2 separate regions of the Homo sapiens genome follow, and region 1 is linked to region 2. The links come from fine-mapping of genetic effects on gene expression. A gene starts in region 2. The other region holds a variant in brackets. All regions are shown on one strand. Distances are from middle to middle. Region 1 overlaps STK11 (serine/threonine kinase 11). Region 2 holds the start of MIDN (midnolin).

Evidence for each region. PIP is the estimated chance that this variant, and not a neighbour inherited with it, causes the effect.
Region 1: its variant is fine-mapped to the expression of MIDN in whole blood (TOPMed, PIP above 0.99).

What each region holds. Positions count from the first base shown.
Region 1 is chr19:1,226,306-1,231,613 of GRCh38, forward strand. STK11 (serine/threonine kinase 11) reads left to right here. Exons shown (of 10, transcript NM_000455.5): 9 at 149-358; 10 at 1,288-2,126. The coding sequence ends at 342. CBARP (CACN subunit beta associated regulatory protein) reads right to left here. Exons shown (of 10, transcript NM_001393918.1): 9 at 4,796-4,970; 10 at 1,982-3,837. The coding sequence ends at 2,874. Among named protein-coding and RNA genes, the nearest start is that of CBARP-DT, 9.0 kb to the right of the region's middle. The variant AAAGCTTGGG/A (reference allele first, on the strand shown) is at 2,108.
Region 2 is chr19:1,246,236-1,251,588 of GRCh38, forward strand. MIDN (midnolin) reads left to right here and starts at 2,348. Exons shown (of 9, transcript NM_001388306.1): 1 at 2,348-2,425; 2 at 3,655-4,294; 3 at 5,327-5,353. The coding sequence starts at 4,062. It overlaps LOC102723811 (a long non-coding RNA gene), which reads right to left and starts at 1,837. Exons shown (of 2, transcript XR_007067082.1): 1 at 1,778-1,837; 2 at 33-1,626. RefSeq lists enhancers at 1-489, 2,425-2,958, 4,803-5,353 and silencers at 1,802-2,341, 2,432-2,891, 2,952-3,071, 3,102-3,571, 3,752-3,801 and 5 more.

The DNA of each region.
Region 1 (5,308 bases), 20 kb before region 2:
CAGGCTGGATACACCTGGGCCTGACCCGGGGGCGGGCATGGCCTGGGCAGCAGCTGTAAGTGCGTCCCCGTGGTGGGGGCCAGCCAGGTCCCTGTGGCTCTGGGGTTGCGCCCCTCAGCTCAGGCCACACTTGCCGTCTCCCTCCCAGGACAGGTCCCAGAAGAGGAGGCCAGTCACAATGGACAGCGCCGGGGCCTCCCCAAGGCCGTGTGTATGAACGGCACAGAGGCGGCGCAGCTGAGCACCAAATCCAGGGCGGAGGGCCGGGCCCCCAACCCTGCCCGCAAGGCCTGCTCCGCCAGCAGCAAGATCCGCCGGCTGTCGGCCTGCAAGCAGCAGTGAGGCTGGCCGCCTGCAGGTGGGGCGCGGCGGGGCCCGGGTGGGGCATGTGGGGACAACGCCTGGATGCCACAGCCAGCCGTGAGCATAGCCCGCGCTAGTCAGTCATGGTGACCGTCACGTGGCTGCGCGTGGTTGCCATGTGGCCTTTGGGTGGCTTGGCCACGTAGCGATCCCCGTGGAGGGTGCCGTCTCGGGGCCTGGTGTCTGGCCAGCGTGCTGGTCATGGAGGCCTACGTGTGGCGGGGCTCTGGGGGGGCGTGCCGTCCTCACAGCCACCTCTCAGAGTGGGTGCATTCCGAGGACCCTGCCCTGGGCCTGGCGCCCCCTCCCCATGCCCGCGCCGCTTCCAGGAAAGGCTTATGCTGGGCTCAGCCCAGAGGCTTTTGAGCACCAGTGGGTGGTGGGTGGTGGGGAGGGGCCGCGGCCTCCATGGCTCTGCCGGGGTGCCGCAGGCTCTGAGCCAGCTGCCAAGTATGGCTGAGGCTGAGTCGTGCCGGACGCTGCCCTGTCTCTCCCTGTGTGCCTGCCTCCTCTCCCAGCCCCAGCCCCAGCCCCGGGTGGGAGACGGAGTCCCAGAGGTGTCAGAGACCCTTAAGTCACCTGCCGAGGATGCGGGGTGGATGGGGGCCCGAGGCTGAAGCCCCTGCCTTGCCACAGCCCCTCTCCCAGGTTTTGGGGGCCACCGCCTGAGTTACATGTCTGTCCCCCAAATGGGTGCCCACAGCCCATCCACCAGCGTCAGAGCCCGCCAGGCCCCACTGCAAAAGGCCACACAATGTACCCCGGGAGTGACTCAAGGGTGGCCTTCCCTGGCCTCCCCTGCTGCCCCCCAGGAGTCCGGTAGCCCCATGACTGTACCTCAGCTTCTCCATCCTCCCAGGGGCCCGCGGGAGGCGGAGAACCGGTGCCCAGGCTGACCTCTTCCGTCTTCCTTCCACCCTGCAGCCCGTGTCCAGGAGCCCCGCCAGGTGCCCGCGCCAGGCCCTCAGTCTTCCTGCCGGTTCCGCCCGCCCTCCCGGAGAGGTGGCCGCCATGCTTCTGTGCCGACCACGCCCCAGGACCTCCGGAGCGCCCTGCAGGGCCGGGCAGGGGGACAGCAGGGACCGGGCGCAGCCCTCCCCCCTCGGCCGCCCGGCAGTGCACGCGGCTTGTTGACTTCGCAGCCCCGGGCGGAGCCTTCCCGGGCGGGCGTGGGAGGAGGGAGGCGGCCTCCATGCACTTTATGTGGAGACTACTGGCCCCGCCCGTGGCCTCGTGCTCCGCAGGGCGCCCAGCGCCGTCCGGCGGCCCCGCCGCAGACCAGCTGGCGGGTGTGGAGACCAGGCTCCTGACCCCGCCATGCATGCAGCGCCACCTGGAAGCCGCGCGGCCGCTTTGGTTTTTTGTTTGGTTGGTTCCATTTTCTTTTTTTCTTTTTTTTTTTAAGAAAAAATAAAAGGTGGATTTGAGCTGTGGCTGTGAGGGGTGTTTGGGAGCTGCTGGGTGGCAGGGGGGCTGTGGGGTCGGGCTCACGTCGCGGCCGCCTTTGCGCTCTCGGGTCACCCTGCTTTGGCGGCCCGGCCGGAGGGCAGGACCCTCACCTCTCCCCCAAGGCCACTGCGCTCTTGGGACCCCAGAGAAAACCCGGAGCAAGCAGGAGTGTGCGGTCAATATTTATATCATCCAGAAAAGAAAAACACGAGAAACGCCATCGCGGGATGGTGCAGACGCGGCGGGGACTCGGAGGGTGCCGTGCGGGCGAGGCCGCCCAAATTTGGCAATAAAT[AAAGCTTGGG/A]AAGCTTGGACCTGGCCGTCTGGGTTTTGTTCGCGTCTCAACGTGGATGGGGCGGCAGCGGGGCGGGCGCCGTTGACATGCGGAGGGCAGTGGGGACTCGGGGCGCGGGAGGGCCGGGGCCGGCTCCCTCAGGGCCGGCGGCAGCAGCGGTGGCGGCGCGGTTATTGCTCGGAGGCGGCGCGGGCTGCCGCCAGCACACGCCGCAGTGAGGTAAACGGTCTCGGAGGTCGGCAGTCACGGTGTTGAGCCGCCTCCCGGCCCAGGGCGGCGAACTCGTCTGCGACCGTTAGCGCCCCGCGGCCCCCGCCCGGGCGAGCTCGCGCACGCGCCCGGCACGCGGCGGCTCCATCGGGCCCAGTGGGCTGCGCGACCCTCGGGTGGCGGGCCCTGCGACTAAGCGGCCGCCCCGTCCGGGACTGAGGGCGAGTGATCGTTGTCCTCAGGAGCCCGAAGCTGAGAGCCGTTCACGCCCCTTCCTTCCCGCCCAGCCGGGGTCTCCGCGGCCCGCGCCTCACGACGCCCAGCACCCGGCAAGCACCGGAAAGAGCAGTGCACACTTCGGCGGCGCGAGGGCGGCCGGGGCTCTGCGCCTGCGCCCTGAAGCGGCGAGCGCGCCTCCGTCGCCCGGCGCGTGCGCGAAGGGCCCGCGGTCCCCGCGCATTCGCGTCGGGGCGTCGCGCCCCCACGTCTCTCCCGCCGCCGAGGCCCCGTGCGGCGCCGGAGAAGCTGCCAGAGAGATGGGCCCAGGACGCGGGACTTAGGCCGGGCTGTGGTCGGGGGACGTGGGGGCGGCGGCGACCAACGCGGGAGTCGCCACGACGGGCTCGGCGAGGCGCGGCGGAAAGAGTCTCTCGTCGAGGCCAGCCGCCAGCTTGTCCAGCACCGACCCGGATGGTAGGACGCACAGGCCCGAGCCGGGGCACCCCCCGCCGCCCGGCTCCTCCTCGATGACGGGGATGGCGGGGTCGTCGCCGGCGCCGCCCAGGGTGCGACCGTCGGGCGGGCCGTCCACGCTGTCGCCGCGCCGCAAGGGCGCACGCGCGGGTCGGGCCGCGCCGGCAGGCGGTGCCGGGGTTCCGGCCAGGGCCGGGGCCGCGCGGGCGCCGGGGTCGCTGTGCTGCCGGCCACGCTGCCACTGTTTGCGGGCGTGCGGGTGCGCGCGGGCGCGGTGTCGCGCGGCAGCCGGCGTGTCGTCGAAGTGCGGGTCGTGGCGCAGGAACTCGTGGAACAGCGCGTCCGTCTTCTCGTCGATGCTGTAGTCGCGGCGCGGGCGGCGGGGCCAGGCGCGCGGGCTGCGGGGCCGGGCGGGCGCGGCAGGTGGCTCGGTGTCGTCGCCTGCGCCGCGGCCCTCGATGCTGGCGTAGCCACTGTCCATCTGCAGCAGCCGGCGCGCCTCGCCGTCCTTGGGCCGCGGCGCGGGCGGGGAGGGCGGCGGGAAGGCGGGCGCCGCGCCCCCGGAGCCTGAGCCCGAGCTGTCGCCGCTGCGCACCGAGTCGCGGTCGTTGCCGCTGCTGCTGTGGTCCGAGGCGGCCGCATGCAGCTCAAGCGAGGCGCGCAGGCTCCACAGGTCGCGGTAGCTGGTCTGGGCCTGCTCGGGGCCCGCGTCCCGCTCGGCGTCCGGCTCCAGTGGCGGCTGCTGCTGCTCAGGCCCCGCGCTGCCCGCGCCGCGCTCCGGGGGGGAATCGGGGCTCGCTCCTCCCGCTGCCTCGGCCGCCTCTAGCCTGCAAGCCAGGCCGCGCCGTCAGAGCCCCGCCGAGCCCCGCGCCCCCTACCCGGCCGGCCATCCCGCCTCTGGATCAGGGAGGGTGGACGCGGGTGGGACTTGGGACTCGGGCGGGCCTTGGAAGGTGAGAGCTTTAAAATGAGCCAGTGTGTTTTGCAGGGGATGCGTCTTGCATTGACCCTGAGCTGTGGCGCCTGCTTATTAAGCAGGGTGCCTCCATGCTGGACTGCAGACGGCGGGGCCCCCTCCCTTGGAAGCCCCCAGGAAAAGTCAACATGCTTCTCTCCGGGAGTCACGTTTTCCCAGCCTCCCAGTGGACGTGGGAGCCGCAGGGGATGGACTGGACGCGGTTGAGTCCAGCTCAGCCCCTGCTCCAGGCTAGGGCTCTCTGCCCACCCATGCTGGATAACCAGCAGGAGGACAGTGCACAGACGTGAGGGTCACCCGCCATACCAGGGCTGCCCCAGGAACCCTGCTCTGCCCCAGCCCCACGCCCCATTCCCATCCCACCGACGTGGGCCCTGGGCTTCAGGGAAGTTGCCCTTGGGTTGGGGGAGGGGTGCTGCTGGCCGGAGTGGTCACAGCAGCTTCTGAGAGGAGTCTGCCCAGCCTTGGGAGCATGGGCGGGGCGGGGGTGGGAGAGGGCCTGGGACCACAGCAGAACCCTTCAGGCCTCGGACTCCACCAGCAAGCAGCAGTACCAGCGCCATCCTCGGGGGGCCCCTCCTCCCCACCCACCGCCCTACCCTTACCCAGTCTCTCCCTGCTTCCCTCCTCTGGTCCATGCTGGAGAGGTGGCCCCAGTGAGTCCGCCTCTGGGAGGGGCCTTGCCGCTGGAGGCAGGCGAGCGCGTGTCCACGGGGCCTGGAGAGCGCTCCCTGGGCCGCCTAGGGGGGGGCGAAGGGGGGCAAGGGCCCACAGGTCCACCCCTAGCACCTCCATCTACTGAAAAATACCTGCCGAGAGCAGGGGGCGGGCTGGCCAGAAAGGGGCGGGGGTGCGGGAAGGCCACGGCGTCGCCCGCCCGGGCAATGTACTGGATGAAGTCCTCCTGGGGGGCATCCCCCTCCTCCTGCTCCGTGCTCTCACTGGCTGCCCGCTGCCGCTGGAAGTGGTGCCGCTTGGGGGAACCTGCGCACGGGATGTGCCGTAAGCGTCAGCCGGCATGTGCCTCCACCCGCTCCACACACACACAGAATGCCTATGCCCCCCCGCCACACACACACAATGCCTGTGCCCCCCCGCCACACACAACGCCTGTGGACCCCCACCACACACACACAACGTGTGCCCCCCACACATACAACGCCTGGGCCCCCCCCACACACAGAACGCCTGTGGCCCCCATACACACACATAGAACGCCTGTGCCCCCCACCACAGAACGCCTGTGGCCCCCTCACACACACACGCCTGTGCCCCCCCCACAGAACGCCTGTGCACCCCCCATGCCTGTGCCCCCCCCACAG
Region 2 (5,353 bases):
CACTCAACCATGGGGACGCCGAGTATGGGAAATGGTGGGGAAGCGTTTTAGCATGTTTATTCATTTAGACTGGCTCTGGGCATCTGGTCCCCAAAGGGCCACACAGTGGCCCCTGTGAAGCCCAGCAAGTTCCGACAACCCGTGTCCCATTCCACTCCCGACCAGACTGAGGTGATGGTGTCCATTCCACTCCCGACCAGACTGAGGTGACGGTGTCCATTCCACTCCCGACCAGACTGAGGTGACGGTGTCCATTCCACTCCCGACCAGACTGAGGTGACGGTGTGCAGGTGGCAGAGCCACACACGAGAGGCAAGAGGCAGGGAGGGAGGTGGGGGCTGCTGGCCACTCACAGGGGGCCCCAGTGTCCTGCTTGGGCTGCTCATTTGGCACCAGTCCACGGCTCCCTCCGCCACCTTTGTTCTCACTGGAAGCAGAATGAGCCTGGCCCTGTAGTTCCCACCTGGGGCCCCAGCCCTTCATCCAAGCCCCATTCATCGACCCTGCCCCTCCTCCCTCCAACTGGGTCCAGTTCACTAAGCTCCCAGAACTGCTCAAGCCATTCCCACTTCCTGGACCATCGTCTTTTTTTTTTTTTTTTTTTTTTTTTTTTGAGAGGAGTTTCGCTCTTATTGCCCAGGCTGGAGTGCAATGGCACAATCTCAGCTCACCACAATCTCCGTCTCCCGGGTTCGAGCAATGCTCCCGCCTCAGCCTCCCAAGTAGCTGAGATTACAGGCGCACATCACCACGCCTGGCTAATTTTTGTGTTTTTAGTACAGACAGGGTTTCACCATGTTGATCAGGCTGGTCTCGAACTCCTGACCTCGTGATCCGCCCGCCTCGGCCTCCCAAAGTGCCAGGATTACAGGCATGAGCCACCGCGCCCGGCCTTTTTTTTTTTTTTTTTTTTTTTTGAGACGGAATCTCGTTTTGTCGCTCAGGCTGGAGTGCCCTGGCACGATCTGGGTTTATTGTAACCTCCGCCTCCCGCGTTCAAGCGATTCTCCTGCCTCAGCCTCCTGAGTAGCTGGGACTACAGACACATGCCACCATGCCCAGCTAATTTTTGTATTTTTAGTAGAGACAGGGTTTCACCATGTTGGCCAGGCTGGTCTCAATCTCTTGACCTTGTGATCCGCCCGCCTCGGCCTCCCAAAGTGCTGGGATTACAGGCGTGAGCCACCGCGCCCGACCGCATCATCTTTTTTATGTGACAAACTCCTAGTCATTCCTCAAACCGCAGCCCCTGTGACCCCCTTCCAAGGGTTATCCCAGCCTCTCCCTCTCTGGCCTAGCCCTGACCCTTCGGGGCTGGGTGTGCCTGTCAAGGTGGGGGCCACGGCTGCCGGGAGCATGGGTGGCAGCCGGAAGGAGACCTGGGGAGGAGCGCAGCCCTGGGAGGGGCGCCCATGGCCAGGGTGGGGGTGGAGGTGGTCAGGCCAGATAAAGGGAGGGGCCAGATGAGTGGACAGGAGGTGCTCCCGTAGGAATGGGGTCCCCTTCTCTAAATAGAGGGGCAGGACGGGGCCCACCTCAACCAGGACCATCCTCAAAAAGCCGACGGGGAAGGGTGAGATGCACACCACATTCGTGTCTCATTGGCTGTGGCCTCAGTTTCTTCATCTGTAAAATGGGGTAATGCCCACCCCAAAGGCTGGGAACCAGTGCATGTCCTGCATTAATGGGGGGTGATGGCCCCAAAGTGATCCTGCCGCATCCCCTCACCACACTCCCACCCACCCTGGAGAAACTGAGGCTTGGAGAGGCCAGTTACCTCCCGGGGTCACAGCATAGCCGGCTGGTGACTGGCTGGGCACAAGGCAGGCCTGGCACTGGCTAATCGCTCCATAAATGCCCTCTGAGGTCACCATTGACAGATGCAGGAGGCCAGGGCTGGCCAGGGCACCCCCACTCTACGGCAGGTGACTCCAGCCTGTTTTCCTGGACGACAGCCGCTGACTCAGGCCCCTCTTCCCGTCCCCCCCACGCGGGCGCCCCCAGGCGGAAGCACCGGGCCTGGGGCGACAGGAAGGGGGCGGGGCAGCGAGTCGCGCTGTACACCCCAAAACCCTGTCCCGCTGACGATTCGGGGTGCATCTCAGCCCGCGGCGAGGCGGGCCGAGACCCTTGGCTCGGGGCATTCAAGGGGAGTCCCCCCATGAACTGCGCCAAGCCTGGGTCCCGGGTGGCCCAGCCGTCAAGGCGCCCCAGGGCCAGGGCCGGCAGGCAGGGGCGGGGGCCAGTCTGCGTCACCGCCCGCCCGGCCCCCCGCCCCCCTGCCCGCCCTAACTCCACCCCGAGGGAAGGCGGCGCGGATAAAGGCTGAGGGCCGCGCGCTTGGCCCAGACCGGCCCGGCCAGCGCGCATTCGGCCCCGGACGAAGGTACTCGCAGCACTTGGAGCGCAGAACCGGCCGCGCCCGGTGAGTGTGGAGGGGGGGGACCTGCGGGCCGAGGAAGGGTGCCCACTCTAGATGGCTCAGGATGCCCGCACTTTTCTTTGTTCTTGGGACAGGAGGGATCGGGGAGCCTCCGGTCCTGGGAAGCCCCCCGGGGTGCGGGGTGGGAGGGGCTCCGCGCAGCCAGCGCCGCCCTGGCCGGACCTCAGCCCCCGCCCCGCCCCCCGGGGCACTCCCCCTTCACCGCGGGTGACCTTGAACTGGTTGCCGTTCCGCCCTCCGTTGCCCAGCCACACGGTCCCAGTCTCCCGACTACAGTCTTTCGTTCCCGATCGGGGTTCCTCCCCCGCGCGCAGCCCAGTCGTCTTCCTCCCCTGCCAGGGGCAGCGCGGCGCCCCCTCCCCGGGACTCCGGGCGGCGCTCCCAGGCGGGCCCGGCAGAGGGCGCGCCCGAGCTGCTGACTCACCGCATCCCCGAGCGCGCGCGGGCGCAGCCGGGGACGCCGCGTCACGTCACGGCTCGAGCGGGCGCGCCTCGGGGAAACGGGTTCTGCCCGCGGCCGGCGGGTGGGCGCGCGGGGCCCCCGGCGGCAGCCACCCGGCCACGTCACCGAGGTGCGGGCGCCCCGCCCCGGCCACAACTCCGCCCCCACGCACCACGCCCTCCCCGGGGCCGCGGCCCTAGCCTCACCGTCGCCCGCCCGCCCCGGGACCCCGGCCACGAGGCGCGGACTTCGCGCTCCCGCTTCCGCTCGCGGCTTTTCCCGGACGAAGGCGGCGGGGTGGCCCCACGACTTCCTGCCCCTCCCGGCGCCGGGAACAATGGCCCGCGCCCCCTCCCGCTCCCGGCCGCTCCCTTGGGATCGCGAGGGGTACCAGACCCGTCTCCAGACCTGGGTCCCGCGCCCCCCGGGGCGCGCCCGCCCTTTGTTGCGGGCTCCGGGCGCTTATGAATGGCTGCGGGCGCGGGCGGGGCGGGGGCGGGCGCGGAGAGGCGCCAGCCCCGCCCCCGCTGCGCTCCCCTTGGTCGCCTGGGCGCTGGGGGCGGGGCGAGGGGGCGGGCCCGGCTGCCACGTGGGGCGGTGCCGCGGCGGCTCTCATAGGCCCGGGCTCGCGGCCGACTGGGCGCTCGGCGCGCGGCGATTGGCCGGCGCCCGGCCGGCGGAGTAAGTAGTGAATGGGAGGGGGCGGCGGCCCCGCCCCCTGGAACGTTGATACATTATAACTTTTTTTTCTTGTTACTTTCACCCCCAGATCCTCCGAGCGGCGGCGACGGCTGTTGCTAAGGGAGGGGACGCGCGAGGAAGCGCGACCCGGGCGGCAGACGGCACCCAGCGCCACCAGCCGAGCGGCGCCCCCTCCCCAGGACCCTTAACCGCGCCGCGTCCCGGTCGCGCCCGCCGCCCTTTGAAGGAGAAGCAAGTGCCGTCCCCACCCCCGGAAGGCGCCCCCAGGAGCCGGAGCGACCTCGGAGCGCCACTCGGATTTTGGATTTCGGTCTCGCATTCCGCGGCCGGGACTTTCTCGAGGAGGACGCGCGCTGCTCCGCGCCCCCGAGTGCCCGGAGGACCCGGCATCCGGGGAGCCTCTCGCCCCTGTCCCGGAGGCGCGGCGAGGATTGGCGGCGCCCGCCGCCCCCAGCCCCCCAGCGCGCGCCGGGGATGGAGCCGCAGCCCGGCGGCGCCCGGAGCTGCCGGCGCGGGGCCCCCGGCGGCGCCTGCGAGCTGGGCCCGGCGGCCGAGGCGGCGCCCATGAGCCTCGCCATCCACAGCACCACGGGCACCCGCTACGACCTGGCCGTGCCGCCCGACGAGACGGTGGAGGGGCTGCGCAAGCGGTTGTCCCAGCGCCTCAAAGTGCCCAAGGAGCGCCTGGCTCTTCTCCACAAAGACACGTAGGTACCGCGCGCCCCCGGCCGGCCGCCCCCTCGGGCCCCGGCCCCCGGGCGGGAACAAAGAGCGCGCCGCGCGGGGAAGGCAGGGGGCGGCCAGACAGGGGGCGGGGGCGCGCCGCGCGCTCTCGGGCGCCCTCTGCTCGGCCTCGCCTGCCTCGGCCCCCTCCCCCGCCCGGGGTCGCCGCACAAAGGCGGCTGCGAGGGCGTCCCGGGCCGGGCTTCGGCGGCCCCCCTTGGGGGCGGGCAGGAATCCCAGGGCGTTGCGGGGGTCCCGGCTGCGGGTGTGGGGGCCGCCACCGCCCCCTCCCGCCTGCGTCCGCGCCGGCTTCCGCATCTGCTCGGCGGCCTCCTCTGCGTCTGGCTGTCTCCCCCCACTTGCGTCTCTCTCCCCCCCTTTGTTCTCGCCTCCGAGCGCTCCCCGCAGCCTCCCCTCCCCCCTGGTATTTAAATCGCCTGCAGGCCCGGAGCCCTCCCCCCGCGGGCCTCCGGGGACACGCAGTGTCCATCCCAGTGGAGGGGCCCATCGGGGGAGGGGCGGAGGGGGAGGGTCTCCTTTGTCTGCGCGGCGGCGGCCGCCTGCGCCGGGGAGGGAGGAGGAGGGGGAGCCCGGCCCGGCGCAACCCCCAGGGCCTCTCCTCGGGCCGAAACCCGTGGTTCCTACAAAGAGGAGCCAGGACTAGAATTAGGGAATTGGGGGCAGGGGCTGCCCTGGGGTCGTGGGGGAAGGTGGCATAGAGCACACTGGGGCCCAGAGGAGGAGAAAGTGCCTGGTTGGGGTGCAGAGGGGGTGCCAGAGTCCAGGGCGGGGGTTCCACTGGAGGGAAGGGGTCCGAATCGCCAGGATGGGGCTCCCAGCACCAGACGGAGACCTCTCTGCACGCGCTTAGGGCCCTGGATCTGGAAGCCGGGAAGGGGTGGGGGTGGGAACTTATCCGTCTCTCCCCACACAAGCACAGCCCTCCCCCGCGGCCTCTGCTTCCGCGTCCCTGTGTCGTCTCCGCGGAGTCTCATGCTCTTCCTTCCTCCCCCCAGCCGGCTCAGTTCGGGGAAGCTGCAGGA